2 linked regions of the Homo sapiens genome follow. The protein of the gene in region 1 purifies or fractionates together with the protein of each later gene. This does not show direct contact. Each region holds a gene or a part of one and is shown on either strand. Other genes may lie near its edges.

What was found. Proteins that work in one complex are often made in the same cells at the same time.
Region 2: the proteins of ELAVL1 (region 1) and MKRN1 purify together in Homo sapiens (affinity purification with western blotting; 2 studies listed by BioGRID, with this or other methods). This does not show direct contact.

Annotation. Positions count from the first base shown.
Region 1 is NC_000019.10:7,959,592-7,969,152, reverse strand, and holds part of ELAVL1 (ELAV-like protein 1), read left to right. Parts: intron 1-1,362; coding exon 1,363-1,588; intron 1,589-5,345; coding exon 5,346-5,670; 3' UTR 5,671-9,561. UniProt on the Homo sapiens protein: RNA-binding protein that binds to the 3'-UTR region of mRNAs and increases their stability.
Region 2 is NC_000007.14:140,451,703-140,457,236, reverse strand, and holds the end of MKRN1 (E3 ubiquitin-protein ligase makorin-1), read left to right. Parts: intron 1-370; coding exon 371-585; coding exon of another isoform or gene 586-589; exon of another isoform or gene 590-1,022; intron 1,023-1,336; coding exon 1,337-1,447; intron 1,448-2,003; coding exon 2,004-2,142; intron 2,143-2,507; coding exon 2,508-2,720; 3' UTR 2,721-4,204; downstream 4,205-5,534. UniProt on the Homo sapiens protein: E3 ubiquitin ligase catalyzing the covalent attachment of ubiquitin moieties onto substrate proteins. These substrates include FILIP1, p53/TP53, CDKN1A and TERT.

The sequences.
Region 1 (9,561 bases):
TCAGGCGATTCTCTTGCCTCAGCCTCTGGAGTAGTTGAGACCACAGGCATGAGCCTTGGCCTGGCTTGACTAAAAGTCTTGAGAACCAGGGTGTTTGGGTTGGGCTGTCTGTGACGGCCTCTCCCACTGGGACACACCCGTGACTCCCGCCTAGTGATGTCACTCTCAGACTGGCCTCTCAGCTGTCACCTCTCCCACCCCTGGGCCTTCCCCTGACTCCATCATGTCCTTGCCCCCAGAGAAGGAGCTAGTGCGCTGCTCAGTGTGCCCTCATCCCCATCCCCCTCATCCAGTTTCCAGCCCGCTTCCCAGGTTCCTCAAGGGACGGGCTACTCATGTTTCCCTCCCGGGCCTAGTGTATGGACAGGCAGGGGTGCAGGACAGCCATGCTCTCCTTCCACCCGCCTTGCTCAGCATCTCACACCCATGCCCAGCTGACCAATGTCCCCCATAGCAGGACGGTCCTCAGGTCTCACACTGCTCCGTCCAGGGATTGGGTTTAGCCGGGAACCCGGGACTGGCCCTTGGGTGGCTCAGTTGAGGTGGCAAGAGAAGATGCCCTCTGGGCTTGGCTGCTGGGGCCCTGGCCCTTCCCATACAGGGACCCCAGGCCTGCCTGGCGAGCCTGTGGATAGGTTCAGCTCTGCTGTATGAGCCTGGGCAGTGTTCTGGCCTCATTTGATTCTGATGGCAATTTGGGGCCCACGGGAGGGGTGTAGGACCTTAGAGTGGAGTATCCCAAGACAGGAGTGAGGTGACAGCAGCAGCATGGAGCTGGCAGGGGGTGGCCACAGGACCCTACTCCCTCCTGGCATGAAGGAGAAGGCATGCAGGCTGAGCTGGGCACCTTTGCAGCAGGCTCGGCCACGAGGCCTGCTGTCACAGCGGGCCCAGAGACAGCAGCCAGGAGAGTGGCCCCTGAGCCCAGGGAGGATCTCTCAGACGCAGTCCCCACTCCAACCCTGTTACCCACCAACCACACACCACACCCACGCACCCACTCTGTGGCGGACACCTGGCAGCTAAATAGTGACGGTGGATGTGCTGTTTCCTAATGTTGCTTTCTTCCAAATAAGAGGCCTGGGTGTCTATTGGGGATGTCTGTCACCAAAATATCTTTGGGCGCCAACACTGTGGAGTCATGGCTTCAGCCGGGAAGAAAGTCTGAAGCTTTAATCTTCTGTTAGTCATTGGTTTTCTTTACTCCATCCATTTGTTTTCACTTTTAGGTTTAATTTTTGTTTATTTCCTTAACCAGACTTCTAGCCTGGCCCACAGTAGACTGACCTGACTTTTGCTTTTCAGTTTTGAAAGTCCTAGCGTTTTTCCCCCTAACTCCGTTTTTGTTGATTTGTTGAAAAGGTTTGTCCAGAGGGGTTGCGTTTATCCGGTTTGACAAACGGTCGGAGGCAGAAGAGGCAATTACCAGTTTCAATGGTCATAAACCCCCAGGTTCCTCTGAGCCCATCACAGTGAAGTTTGCAGCCAACCCCAACCAGAACAAAAACGTGGCACTCCTCTCGCAGCTGTACCACTCGCCAGCGCGACGGTTCGGAGGCCCCGTTCACCACCAGGCGCAGAGATTCAGGTGGGTCGGGAGGGTGCGCGCTCCTGAAAGCCATACTTAGCCCCGCTGGCAGGCGACGGCACAGCCACAGAATAGAAACCACGGGGATGATAGACTGATCCCGTCAGAGAGCGCGTTTCAGAATCATTCTGCAGCTCCACACCACAACCTCCATCAGAAAGGTGTCTGTAGGAAAGCCGTTTACTTCCGATTGGGCGTTGTCTTTCATGGGAATCAAAACAGTGACTCCAGGCTGGACACAGTGACTTATCCCTGTAATCCTAGCACCTTGGGTGGCTGAGAGAGGAAGATCGATTGAGCCCAGGAGTTCAAGACCAACCTGGGCAATATTGCGAGACCCCATCTCTACAAAAAATACAAAGCTGGCCAGGCATGGCGGTGCGCTCCTGTAGTTGCAGCAACTCAGGAAGCTGAGGTGGGAGGATTGCTTGAGCCCAGGAGGTTGAGGCTGCAGTGAGTTGTGATCATACCACTGCACTCCAGCCTGGGCCACAGGGCCAGAACCTGTCTTTTTTTGTTTTTATTAAAAAAAAAAAAAAGACAGCACCAGTCCCCACCAGTTGCTGTGAGCGTGAGCACTTAGAGCTTCAGCACGCAGTTCCTAGTAACAGCAGAACGGAGCCGCGAGCTTTAAAGATGGTTTCATGCCCAGTGTGGGGGAGCACACACCTGTAATCTCAGCTCTCAGGAGGCCGAGTTAGGAGGATTACTTGAAGCCCCGAGTTTGAGCAGCCTGGGCAACAAAGTGAGACCCCTGTTCCTACAAAAAGTAATGAAAAAAACTGGGCATGGTGATGCTGGCCTTTAGTCCCAGCTACTCAGGAGGCCATGGTGGGAGGATCGCTTGAACCCAGGAGGTGGAGGCTGCAGTGAACTATGATTGCACCACTGCACTGCAGCCTGGGTGATAGAGTGAGACCCTTTCTCTAAAAAATAAATGAATAATGAACGTCTCATATCTGTGGGAGAAAAGATGCTGCCTTAGGTATACTCGGGTGAGAGTAGATCTTCCAGCATTCTTAGACATTTGATCAGCAGCCCTAAGGCAAACCTTTTTCAAACACCTGCCTCGTGGAGTCATTTGTATTGGTGAATGTTGTATGTATGCATTCTGTTTATAAGCCCTGTCCTAGAGGGGAGGAGTTTTCCCGGATTCCTTAGTCTTTCCATCCTGAAAATGGTTCTGGCTGCCAGGATGAAGTGGGATAGAGGCGATGAGAGTCAGGGCCTTGGACTCCAGGATGTGGTGTGCTGTCGCCTCAGAAACAGCAGAGGTCTCAGTGTCAGGGCTGTTTTGTTTTTGTCAAAACCTCAAGGAGTGGCATCGAGGGCTTATCTCAGGTATGACAAGGATAGATTTCCCTTTTTTTTTTAATTTTTAATGTTTTTATTTTTTGTTGAGATGGGGTCTCACTGTGTTGCCCAGGCTGGTCTTAAACTCCTAGCCTCAAGTGATCCTCCTACCTCAGCCTCCCAACGTACTGGGATTATAGGCGTGAGCCCGGCCCCATCGTTGTTTTAACAGTGAAGCTGGGTGGGCGCTGCCCAGTGCCACACATGCTGCTGTGAGAGGTGTTATTCTCATGGCTGAGTTACCCAGCATTCTCAGCCTGGCTCAAATTCCAAAGCTGGCCTGCCTTCCTTGAGGTTTCTGGCTTGAAGACAAGGCTGGGGAAGCTTCTCTGGACGGAATGGAGCTGAATTTTAAAATCCAGCTCTAGAAATCCCATCATACAGTCGGTCCTGCTCTTGATGGGGCGGGCTATATGGGCGGTGGGGTTGGGTGAACTGCTCCTTAGCCTGGAAGGAAAACAGGGAAGGTTGGAGGAGACATGGGACTCTGGTCCCAGTAATGAGGACAAGAAAAGAAAGGGGAAACCGGAGAAGTGGACATTTCTGGTCGAGCAGGAAAAGTGAGTGGCAGGGCAACCACTAAGACAAAGTGATGGAAGGAAGTGGGGAGGGCGGGAGAGTCTGGAGGGAAAGATTCGCTCAGGAGGCTGAGAGAAGAGGAGGAAGAAAGACCCAGACTGCAGTGAGTTTGCAGTCAGTCCCTATCACGTCCAGAAAAGCCCAGAGATAAGGGATGGAAAAGAATTGGGTTGGAGGAAGAGAGGAGAAGATTTATGACTGTCAAGACCAGAGAAATCAGCAGGAGAAAAACTACCAACAAGAGTAATTCCTAAGAAGGCCGGGCGCATTGACTCACGCCTGTAATCCCAACGCTTTGGGAGGCCAAAGCAGGAGGATCACTTGAGCCCAGGAATTTGAGACCAGCCTGGACAACATAGACCCTTTCTTCTTAGTCTTTCCATCCTGAAAATGGTTTTACAAAAAATGTAAAAATTAGCCAGCATGGTGGCACACACCTGTGGTCCAGCTGCTCAGGAGGCAGGAGGATCACTTGAGCCTAAGAGTTTGAGACCATACTGGACAACATAGTGAGACCCTCTCTCAAAAATAAAGAAAATCACCGTTGGGCTAGTGAGCTGCCCCATGGCAGCTGGTGTCCTCTCGTGTCTGTCGAGAGGGTGAATCTGTTTAACAGCGCTTGAAGGCACTCGTTTACCCCGGCTGGGGCCTGCAGGGCTGCGCTTGGCTGATAGGGCCATAGCCTGAAGCCCAGTTTTATTTTGGAGCAGGTAATGCTTCTCTGCATGCATCACGCAGCTTCACAGATGCCGGCTTCACAAATGTATGCTACTCAGATATTCCCAAACTGACCCTCAGACCTTTACTTTTTTAATGTGAGAAAGTTCCAGAGGGAAACATAGCTTTAGGAACTGTTTTGTCATATACCTTAATCCTTATTACAGCATCTGTACATTTTCAGAAGGCTTTATTTTATTTTAGTTTAGTTTAGTTTTTGTTTTCTGAGGTTTTTGTTTTTTTCCTAGAGATGGGGTCTCTCTGTGTTGCCCAGGCTGGTCTCAAACTCCTGGCCTCAAGTGATCCTCCCACCTTGGCCTCTCAAAGTCCTGGGATTCCGTGCTTGAGCCACCATGCCTGGCCCAGAAAGGCTTATTTTTTATGTAAATAAAAGTATCACTGTGGAAAGAGCCCCACGTGTGTGGTCAAGTTTGGTGAGCCTGCCGTTGCTGGTGTCCCAGGGCCCTTCCCTGTCCCTTGAGTTCTCAGTCCTCAGTGGTTTGGCCCCTGACCCTCAGGGGATGTTGAGCTCTAGCCACAGAGGGTTGGTTGCCTGGTGCTTGGGAAGGAATTCTTGTGCCCTACAAGTGGCCCTGGCAAAGGCGTGCTCTAACCAGAGACCACTGGGCTGTCAACGCTTGGGGGCGGGTCATGATAAGGGGAAGGTGCAAAATTTGGAAAAAGGAGTTCAGCCCCTGCACGTACCCCACAGTACGAGGAGAGTTTCCTCCAGGGAGAACTGAGGCTGTCAGAGGCCTGCAGAGCATTTCTACCTTCAACGGAGGACCAGGAGAAGCGCCCATCATCTAAAATGTGGGGAACCGCAGGAACCCCTAAACAGAAACCCCGACATACACAGTGGGAGGAGTGGAGGGCACCAACCAGCCCCTCAGAGTCAGCTCCCTACAGAACAGGGTCCCGCCCCTCCACTACTGTATTTAATTCCTCCCAGGGTTTTGACCCATGCAGGTGTCTCAACCGTGAGCACCTCGTGGCTGCGCAGAGCGGGATGGGGCCCAGCGGCCATGGTCAGCATGCGTCCAGGCCTTGCCCCATCCCCAGGCCGCCTGCGCTGACCGTGGCCTGACGCTTGCTCTCTGTCTGCCAGGTTCTCCCCCATGGGCGTCGATCACATGAGCGGGCTCTCTGGCGTCAACGTGCCAGGAAACGCCTCCTCCGGCTGGTGCATTTTCATCTACAACCTGGGGCAGGATGCCGACGAGGGGATCCTCTGGCAGATGTTTGGGCCGTTTGGTGCCGTCACCAATGTGAAAGTGATCCGCGACTTCAACACCAACAAGTGCAAAGGGTTTGGCTTTGTGACCATGACAAACTATGAAGAAGCCGCGATGGCCATAGCCAGCCTGAACGGCTACCGCCTGGGGGACAAAATCTTACAGGTTTCCTTCAAAACCAACAAGTCCCACAAATAACTCGCTCATGCTTTTTTTTGTACGGAATAGATAATTAAGAGTGAAGGAGTTGAAACTTTTCTTGTTAGTGTACAACTCATTTTGCGCCAATTTTCACAAGTGTTTGTCTTTGTCTGAATGAGAAGTGAGAAGGTTTTTATACTCTGGGATGCAACCGACATGTTCAAATGTTTGAAATCCCACAATGTTAGACCAATCTTAAGTTTCGTAAGTTATTTCCTTTAAGATATATATTAAACAGAAATCTAAGTAGAACTGCATTGACTAACCAGTCCCTCTGGATGGTGGTGAACCTGAAGCATGCTTTAACCTCTAAGACTGTCTAACACGCGTTTCATTCAATGTCTCCACAGACTGGGTAGCAAAAAAATCACCTTTTAGTTTTAGTTTTTAATCTAAAGATGTTAGACAGATGCTGAGTGTGCGTTTTCTCAACCGCTTCAACATTGTAAGCGATGTATGCTTTGGTTGACAGGAAGTTCCTTTTCCAGGCAGGTCCCGTTGCCACCTCCTGCTCACTCAGTCCCGGGCTCTGCCGAGTGGTCCTGGGAATGGCGGCGGGCCCGTCCAGCGTGGGCCACCACTGGGGCCGGGGGCCACGGGCTGCATGCTGGGCGGGCCCTCCAGAGAAGGACACAAACGTGTTTCGTAAGCCCAGGCACCAATGGGAATGGACCAAAGAGTTTCAGGGAAACTCCAGTATATTCCAGAGTCAGATCTAAGCTCCAGGCACGCCTGAAGATGTGTTGCTACTCTGACATCCCGAGTTTCTGTCCACACATTGCATGCACAGCGCCCCACACATTGGATACTGTTGTTCACGATAATTTCTCCCGTTTTCCAGAGCATTTAACATAGCTTGGAGGCGTAAAATGGCTCTGTATTTTAATAACACAGAAACATTTGAGCATTGTATTTCTCGCATCCCTTCTCGTGAGCGCTTAGACCTTTTTCTATTTTAGTCGGATTTTGTTTTGGAATTTTGCTTTTGTATGAACACTCAGCAGAAAAGTACTTACTTCTTGCCAGTTATCTATTAACCAAAACCTTTGATTTGTAGTTTTAAAGATTAACCCTCAAAGTTCTCTTCATAACTGCCTTGACATTTTGGGTTGTTCTGTTCTGTTAATTTTCTTTTGCTTTTTTGTGTTTTTTGTTTGTTTTTACTTTTGCATTTAAGACCATTAAATTTGATTTTGTTTTGCTCGAATTTTGTTTTGTTTTTTATTTTACCTTTTCTTTCTTTTTGGCTAGGGAAGGTGCAGGTGGCCCAGCATTCAGGGAGGAGTCGTAAGATCTTAAGAAACCAATCCTTGCCTCAAGCAAAAGCATTTCTGAATCTGTGACGCAAGAATGTGCAGTTACAGGCTGGTGGCTTTTAAACCAGGAGCCCGGAGGAAGGGTGAAAGAGAAAGCCTGTGAAATAGGCAGGGCCAGATCACCCAAAACTCCTCAGGACTGGGATCTGGCGTTTATAAATAACTAGTTTACAGAGAGAATCACAAACAGGATAACTTAGTACCAGCAGTTTTTAACCTTGACGTGAGACTAAAACGTGACCGTAGGCTGTTTTTTAGTTATTGCTCTCATGAGATGATGGCTGTATTTATCTGTTTATTTATACCTATTTATGTATTTATTTATTGAAGTGTGAAATTGAGCAATAGGCAGGCACCACCGTCCCCAGAGCAGGTCAGCGTCTCGAGAGGCCCCTGGACAATTGAGGATGCCCATCCCCTCCCCTTTCCCTGATCTTTTACTGAGGGGCTGTGTGCGCGATCCTTGCAAATTGATGATGTTGCCATCCGTACCCAGGCTGTGTCTCATAAAAGTCGGCCTGGTGCCAGAGAGGACCTCCTTTCTCCCACAGAATCCCAGATCCTCAGGAAAAGCCAAAACCGAGGCCCATTGCCCGGATTCGACACAAAAGAGGGTCCCTGCTCTGTTGCCCGAGAGCAGTCTGCATCCTGGGACCAGAATGCTTTCCTGGAAAAAGAAGCCTTTCAGGTTTCCCTGGGCCAGCATCTTCTGATGGAAGGTGGGAGCCAACACCCTTCTGATGGAAGGTGGGAGCCAACACCCTTCTGATGGAAGGTGGGAGCCAACACCCTTCTGATGGAAGGTGGGAGCCAACACCCTTCTGATGGAAGGTGGGAGCCAACACCCTTCTGATGGAAGGCGGGATTCCCGCTTCTGAAACTCCCCCTGGAGTCTCACTCCCACACATGCCCATAGCTAGCATTCAACAGAGAACTCTGTCTTAAGCTTCAACTGTGAAAATGATGACGGGCTTGTAGCACCTCAGCTTCTTTCCTCGCCCCCTTTTATCTGAATCCTATCAATTATTCTGATGCTGGGACAGGTGAGAAGAAACTGTGAAGTATATGAGCCTTTGAAAGTTCCCTGAAGTTTCTCAGTTCAGGAACATTCTCATTGTATGTGGTCTCCGCTGTTTGAACAGCCTTCTAGCTAAAAAATTCCAAAGCCTTTATTTGGGAGTCTTAGCTTGCAAGCTTGTGGAAGGATTTAGCTTAACAACTGTCACTCCTGAAAAGCAATCTCTGTTCCATCAAGGTTCTAGTTGCTGGCCCTGTGTCCTCAAAGTTCATTACATCTTATCAAGGCCTGTTTGCAAAGGGGAGATCCCTTTTCTTAAAAAAGGCTCAACCCAAAAGAAACCATTTCTTAAAAAATTTTACATAGATCAGTTGTATTTCTATTTAGCAAAAATGAGTGCTCTGCTTTTATTTGGGAATTTCGATGAAAAAGCGTTCAGAGTAGATAATGTTCATTTATCAAAAATCTGGTTTGGGAAATACCAAAGAGGCTTTGATTGAATTCCCTTTTGACCCGTGTGTAACTTCCTCTGGTAGTTAGACCCCAGGCAGCTCCGAATTTGTGAACCTGCTTCCTGATGAATTCTCCCTTGTTCCCCCTTGGCTCTGCCATTATTTCGTTTTCAGTGTAATTTGCCAAGCCGCAGTTTTCTGTGCTGGCTGTGCCTCTAGTCGCAGCTCTGTGACTGATTCCCTCCCGGGTGCTGAGTCCCCTCCCCGGCCACCATCCTGCGTGAATATCCTGAAATTCATGGGCTTCCTCGGGGGCCCGCCCGCAGGTGGTGCTGGGTGGGTTCCGCCACCTTCTCCTGGAAGGTGAGCCTTTTCCTGGCCAAGGGCAGCTGCCTTAACCTCTGAGAGTCTGCGCTTGGCCTTAGTCCTGGAGACCCAGCCTCCAGGGACTGAACCGTGCTGCTGTTGGGAGCCAAGACCGGCCCTTTGGAGCCGGCAGCCCAGGGGTCCCTGCTGGATCAGAGAAATAGAAGCACCCGAAGACGGTTAGTGGCAATTCCTTGACCCGGTTTGCTTCCAAATGAAGGCCATTTGTCCACCAGGCATTGAAAAGACATGACTTACCCAGTCCGGCATCGGACTTGAAAAATCGAAATTGACATCACTCAGCTGTTACATTTCACATCCGATTCAGCCCCCTTTTATTTCCATGTGCTTTTCGCAGCCTTCCTGTGTTGGATGAAAGAGAATAAGAATTCAGCTGACAGGAGGCCTCTATCCTGTCCCTCCACCCCACCCTCCACCTCAATCCCCTCCCATCTTCCCCAGACCTACCTCACCTACTAGGACCTGAGGCAGCTCCTTAGCAGAGACCCCTGGGGTTTAGCTGACTCTGGGGGTCAGGGGTTCCTGTCCCCAAACTTCGCAAGACAGCCCTGAAGTCACAAGTGCTTTCTTTTAAGTGGCATTGGCAATTGGCGTGTAATGATGGCAGTAGAATCTGAATCTCGGATCCCAGGCAGGGTTCACATTTCCAAACCTTTTTGATTTCCCCTGACCTCTAATGGCTGGATCCTATTTTTCTACAACCTTTCAGTGACAT
Region 2 (5,534 bases), on another chromosome or scaffold:
CCGACAGGTTTTAACTAGGGTCTTAACCTCATGTAGAAACCAGAAATAACAAACAGTATGGAAAACCGTCTTTAATGTAGTTGAGCTCCAGGTTTGGGGTAGAGAAAATTGGGTAATTTTTCAGTTCCCGAAGTTGAGTCCTCATAGTTTGATTTTCTAGTATTGTTAAGTACCACCGCAAAAACAAACAAACAAAAAAAAAACACCACACCTGTGTTTACTTGTCAGCAAAGCTAATTTTCGTGTCAGCTTGGGAACATTGTTTTTTCAGTTGACTATTTGATTCTTTGACTGTGAATCATTAACTGTTGCTCAAGTTTTTCAGGGTTCAATGACTGGATTCCACTTGTTCTCTCTCCACCTTCTCTAGTCGTGCATTGAGGCCCATGAGAAGGACATGGAGCTCTCATTTGCCGTGCAGCGCAGCAAGGACATGGTGTGTGGGATCTGCATGGAGGTGGTCTATGAGAAAGCCAACCCCAGTGAGCGCCGCTTCGGGATCCTCTCCAACTGCAACCACACCTACTGTCTCAAGTGCATTCGCAAGTGGAGGAGTGCTAAGCAATTTGAGAGCAAGATCATAAAGTGAGACTCCTCCCCAGTCTTCATTTGTGCTTTCTCTTTTGGGGAAGAATTTAGTAACTTGTGCCAACTTTCAACCAGATGGACCGCATTTAAATGCATGCATTTTATCTTGAAACTGGGATATTCTAATGGGGATTTCTTCTTTGTATTTCAGCTAGCTTCTAGGTTAGTTGGTCTATCTACTTTTATTTGAATGAGGAAACCCTGTGTATCAGTTAGAATCTTCGTGCTTTTTCTGAGGAGATTGTGTTTAATGGATTATTAGCCAGTTTAGGCTCAGTGAACAAACTGATCTAGCTCTGAATGTATGTTTCCTGACGTTTTACATTTCCACTTTCCTATTCCATTCATTAAGCTAGCCAACAATCCACCATCCTTTAAAGATTGTTCTCATAACTGAACAAAAACCACATAATCTAAACAGAGCAAAGCTACAAGAAATAAATTTATTTAAACGAAAGAAAAAGGAGTCTGTGTGAAATGTCTTCTTTTGTTTTTGTTTTTTACCTAAGTTATATTTTTCAAAAAAAAAAAAAAAGAACTGGCTAGCCCTTGAGTTGGATTTATAAAGGAGGTTGCCTTGCTTGAAAGAAATGGTCAGTTGTGTGACAGTATGTGGAACCCTTTCAGGAAATGCCCACGTGCCTTTCAGTTAAGTCTTTAAGTCTGGAGGCGACACACCAGGGTGTGTCCTTGAAGAGTGGGCCTGTAAAAGGGGAATTTGCATTGCAGCCTGTTCATTGTTTCCCAGGTCCTGCCCAGAATGCCGGATCACATCTAACTTTGTCATTCCAAGTGAGTACTGGGTGGAGGAGAAAGAAGAGAAGCAGAAACTCATTCTGAAATACAAGGAGGCAATGAGGTATGAGCACTGCAGCCTTTTCTCAAGCGAAGAGCCCAACAGAGCTTGGGTTCACTTTGAAAAGAATGGTGCTGCATTATACACTCCTACCTCCTTCCTACCCTTCTTTGACTTCCCAGGACAGTTTATTTTGTCACCCTGATAACATCCAGTATATATCTTGCTATAACACAGTCCTTGGGGTCCATGCCAAGGGACTGTGTTATAAAGAGGTCTCTACTGTTGACAAGTAAGGCCCCATGAGTGGGGTTCTACCTTATTCTGAATCCGTGTCATAGCTGTCCTATGTTCTCATGTGTTGGCTTTCTAGAAGATTTTCTCTCTATGGCATCTGCTTGTACTAGAGCTATTAACCAGCATAGACTTGAACAGAGTTACCGGTTTCTAGTTAGTGTTTCTTGCATTGGCACACACATGTTTATAAGAACACATCTTGGGGAGGGCTGTAAGCTGACATACTGGTTCTATCCCTACCTGTTTAAAGAAACCCCGGATGATAGTCAAATACAGACCTGAAATCCACTGTGAATAAGGGTTGCGATATTTTCCTTTCCAGCAACAAGGCGTGCAGGTATTTTGATGAAGGACGTGGGAGCTGCCCATTTGGAGGGAACTGTTTTTACAAGCATGCGTACCCTGATGGCCGTAGAGAGGAGCCACAGAGACAGAAAGTGGGAACATCAAGCAGATACCGGGTAACTCTCACTGTTTTTTTAAAGGAGGGGAAATTCCAAGGTATCAGTTGAGTCCTGCACATATTGGGGTAGGGGAAGGAGAAGGTTAACGCTCAGGTCTGGGAGCGAAAGTGTAGAGTATTAAAGGAGGAAACAAACCTCAGAAAACTGGGAGGGATAGGAAAGGAAGAAAAAATGTGTGTTAAAGCTCTAGCCTAAACGATTTCCATGAAGTAACCAGAGGGGAGGAAGTGGTAAATGGAAACCCTAACTAAGAAGTCTGGTTCGTCATGCCCTCTGGTGTGCTGGACGTTTTGCCTTATAAACAACAGGATAGAAGATACTGCTCGACAGTGCCATCCCTATCATGGCCTTGTTTTTTACAGGCCCAACGAAGGAACCACTTCTGGGAACTCATTGAGGAAAGAGAGAACAGCAACCCCTTTGACAACGATGAAGAAGAGGTTGTCACCTTTGAGCTGGGCGAGATGTTGCTTATGCTTTTGGCTGCAGGTGGGGACGACGAACTAACAGACTCTGAAGATGAGTGGGACTTGTTTCATGATGAGCTGGAAGATTTTTATGACTTGGATCTATAGCAACCTTGCGTGGCGTGTGAACTGGTCTGCTGACCTCAGACAGCAGCTGTCCCCTGTGGTGGTGTGGCAGTGCCTGTGTTCTCTCCTAGGCAGGCCTCTCAACTCCAGGTGCTGTCCTAAGAATTTTTACCCAGGGCCTGTCTTCTCAACCCCTCACCTTTCCCTGAGGAGTGTGTTGTTTTCCCTGTTGAAAAAAGTTACAAAAATAAATCTTAAAGTTAGTTTTTTGTAACACGAATTTAACTGTCAGACAGTTAGTGTAGGTGTGTTGCGTCATCTGTTTTCAACCAGATTGCATTTATGGACTTTTCACACACTCATTTTGAGGACCCCAGGTTCAAAAGTAAAAGCAGTGGCCCTGCTTTGGGGTCCAAGAATAGGAGTGATGGGTGAAGGGACCTAAGCTGGCCAATAGCCCTCTGCCCCAGACATGGGATGTGGATCCTTGAGGTTTCTGGTGAAATCTGCACATCTGTGTTTTTATATCTGTTCCCTACCCTGTAATCCCTACCACGTGCACTTGTTCTGTGGTTTTGGTCTCTTGTTTAATTGCACACAAGTAATACTACTGGGTAACCAGAATCAGGTGTGAATGTGTTGAGATTTTTTACTGTTTTGCATGATAGGAAAATTGAGAAAGAATACGTATAAAAGATAGAGAGGCATAACATCAATGCAGAGTTGGAAGTTGGCTCCCAAGGGCTGACATGGTGTGAGTGTGTGGGTGTGTGATAAGCTTCTCATCCCTGCATAGATGCAGTATTCTTAGCCTTAGTAGAAAAACCTGGTTTAGTGGTTTAAGCCTTGTGTGGCAGATAGATCTTAAAGGGCAAAGCAGTATATTGGTAGTTGTCAATATAGCAGTGCTAGCTCTGTCTATATAAATAGAGAAATGGGGTTAGCCATAGAGGTTAAAACTACCTGGTTATCCCATATAATAACACAAACTGGGTCTTGGATACACAGTTGTATTTAATGTTTTACGATCTAGCCTTTCCAGTACAGGCACTTTCTGAGAAACCTTTGTCCTCACTTGAGGCATTTTGTTGTCGGGTTTTTGTGTTTGTTTTTGTGGGTATTTGCCTCATTCCACCCCTGAGCTTTCAGGTAGACAGACGTGATTCAAAACTCTGTTCTAAGGTGTTTATTGTAGTGGAGTAATGGGTTTGCAGTGATAAGTCATACTTTTCCACCGAAAGGGAGGGCTTGGGAATCCCTGAGATTAGCTAAAGTTAAGTTGTTGGAAGAATTCCTTGATTGGAAATTGTACCTTTGTGTTTTGTTGCTCTGTTTCCTGAAAATAACTCGGGGATGCTCCTGGTTTGTCCATCTACTGCTTTGATTCCTTGGATCCCACCCATTCTTTCACTTTAAGAAAAAACAAATAATTGTTGCAGAGGTCTCTGTATTTTGCAGCTGCCCTTTTGTAAGAAGCACTTTTCCCAAATAAAACAATTAAAAAAAAAGTTGGCTGTTCTGTGTAATGAGCTGTTTTTGAAATGTGCCGATGTCAAAGAATAATGATGTTTTTCTTTCACTGACTCTTCGATCGGTCCCTTGTCGGATATTCGGGAGGATAGGTACTTTGAGAAATGTGTGTGAGAGAGAAAGGGAAACCTTAACTAGCCGGGGTCATCAAACAATCCTATACTTGAAAATGTTCAAGACTAACGCTGGGCCACCTGTTGAGCAAAAGGCACTGGCAGTTTTCTGCTACCATGCACTTGCGGTTGAACTTGCTTCATGCCCTTAGATAACGGGGGAAGGTCATAATATAATTGTATTTTGAAAGCTTATTGTTCTGCATAATTATTTCGTGAATTTTTAAGGAGTTTTCATTATTGTGAATTTTTTGTGAGTAAGAACCATTCTGCTACTCCCATGGAAGACCTTCAGGTGACCTTTTTTCCACACTTGTAAAAATAACTGCTCCTCGATTTTAGTATTTATGTTAAGAATTTATGGCTGGGTGCGGTGGCTCACGCCTGTAATCCCAGCACTTTGGGATTACAGAGGCAGGAAAATCACTTGAACGTGGGAGGTGGAAGTTGCAGTGAGCTGAGATCATGCCATTGCACTCCAGCCTGGGCAATAGAGTGAAAAAAATAAAGAATTTGTGCTATGGGGGCCGGGCACGGTGGCTCACGCCTGTAATCCCAGCACTTTGGGAGGCCGAGGCGGGCGGATCACGAGGTCAGGAGATCGAGACCATCCTGGCTAACATGGTGAAACCCTGTCTCTACCAAAAATACAAAAAATTAGCTGGGCATGGTGGCGGGCCCCTGCAGTCCCAGCTACTCGGGAGGCTGAGGCAGGAGAGTGGCGTGAGCCAAGATCTCGCCACTGCACTCTAGCCTGGGCGAAAGAGCAAGACTCCAACTCAAAAAATGCTATCGGAAAATGTTTAAACATCTAGGAATCATTTCTGAGTGGGCTTATACTGTGGTCATGATAACAACTGGGGATCCACTGAGTAGTCTGGTCTGTTTCTGTAAGCTTGTAGCCCAGCAGCTAACTCCCAGGGGAGTTAAGTCCACCCTCAGGTGTACCAGTCAGGCTATGCTGGGGACATGCAGAGGGATGGGGAAGAGCCTGAGAATGGGTTGGGAGTGCTGGAGCTAGGAGGTGGAGAGAGCCTTGAGCAATTCTGGAAAGTAGGAAGAAGCATCGTTTGCATATCTGAATCTGCAACAGGGAGAGGGGGATAGCAAGGTCCAGGGAGTGGCAGTTGGTCACTTCTGGGATGGAGAGAAGTGTATGTTTAGAGCAACTCTTTTGTATCTTGGAAAAGGCAGTGGAAGCTTCTGTACTAGT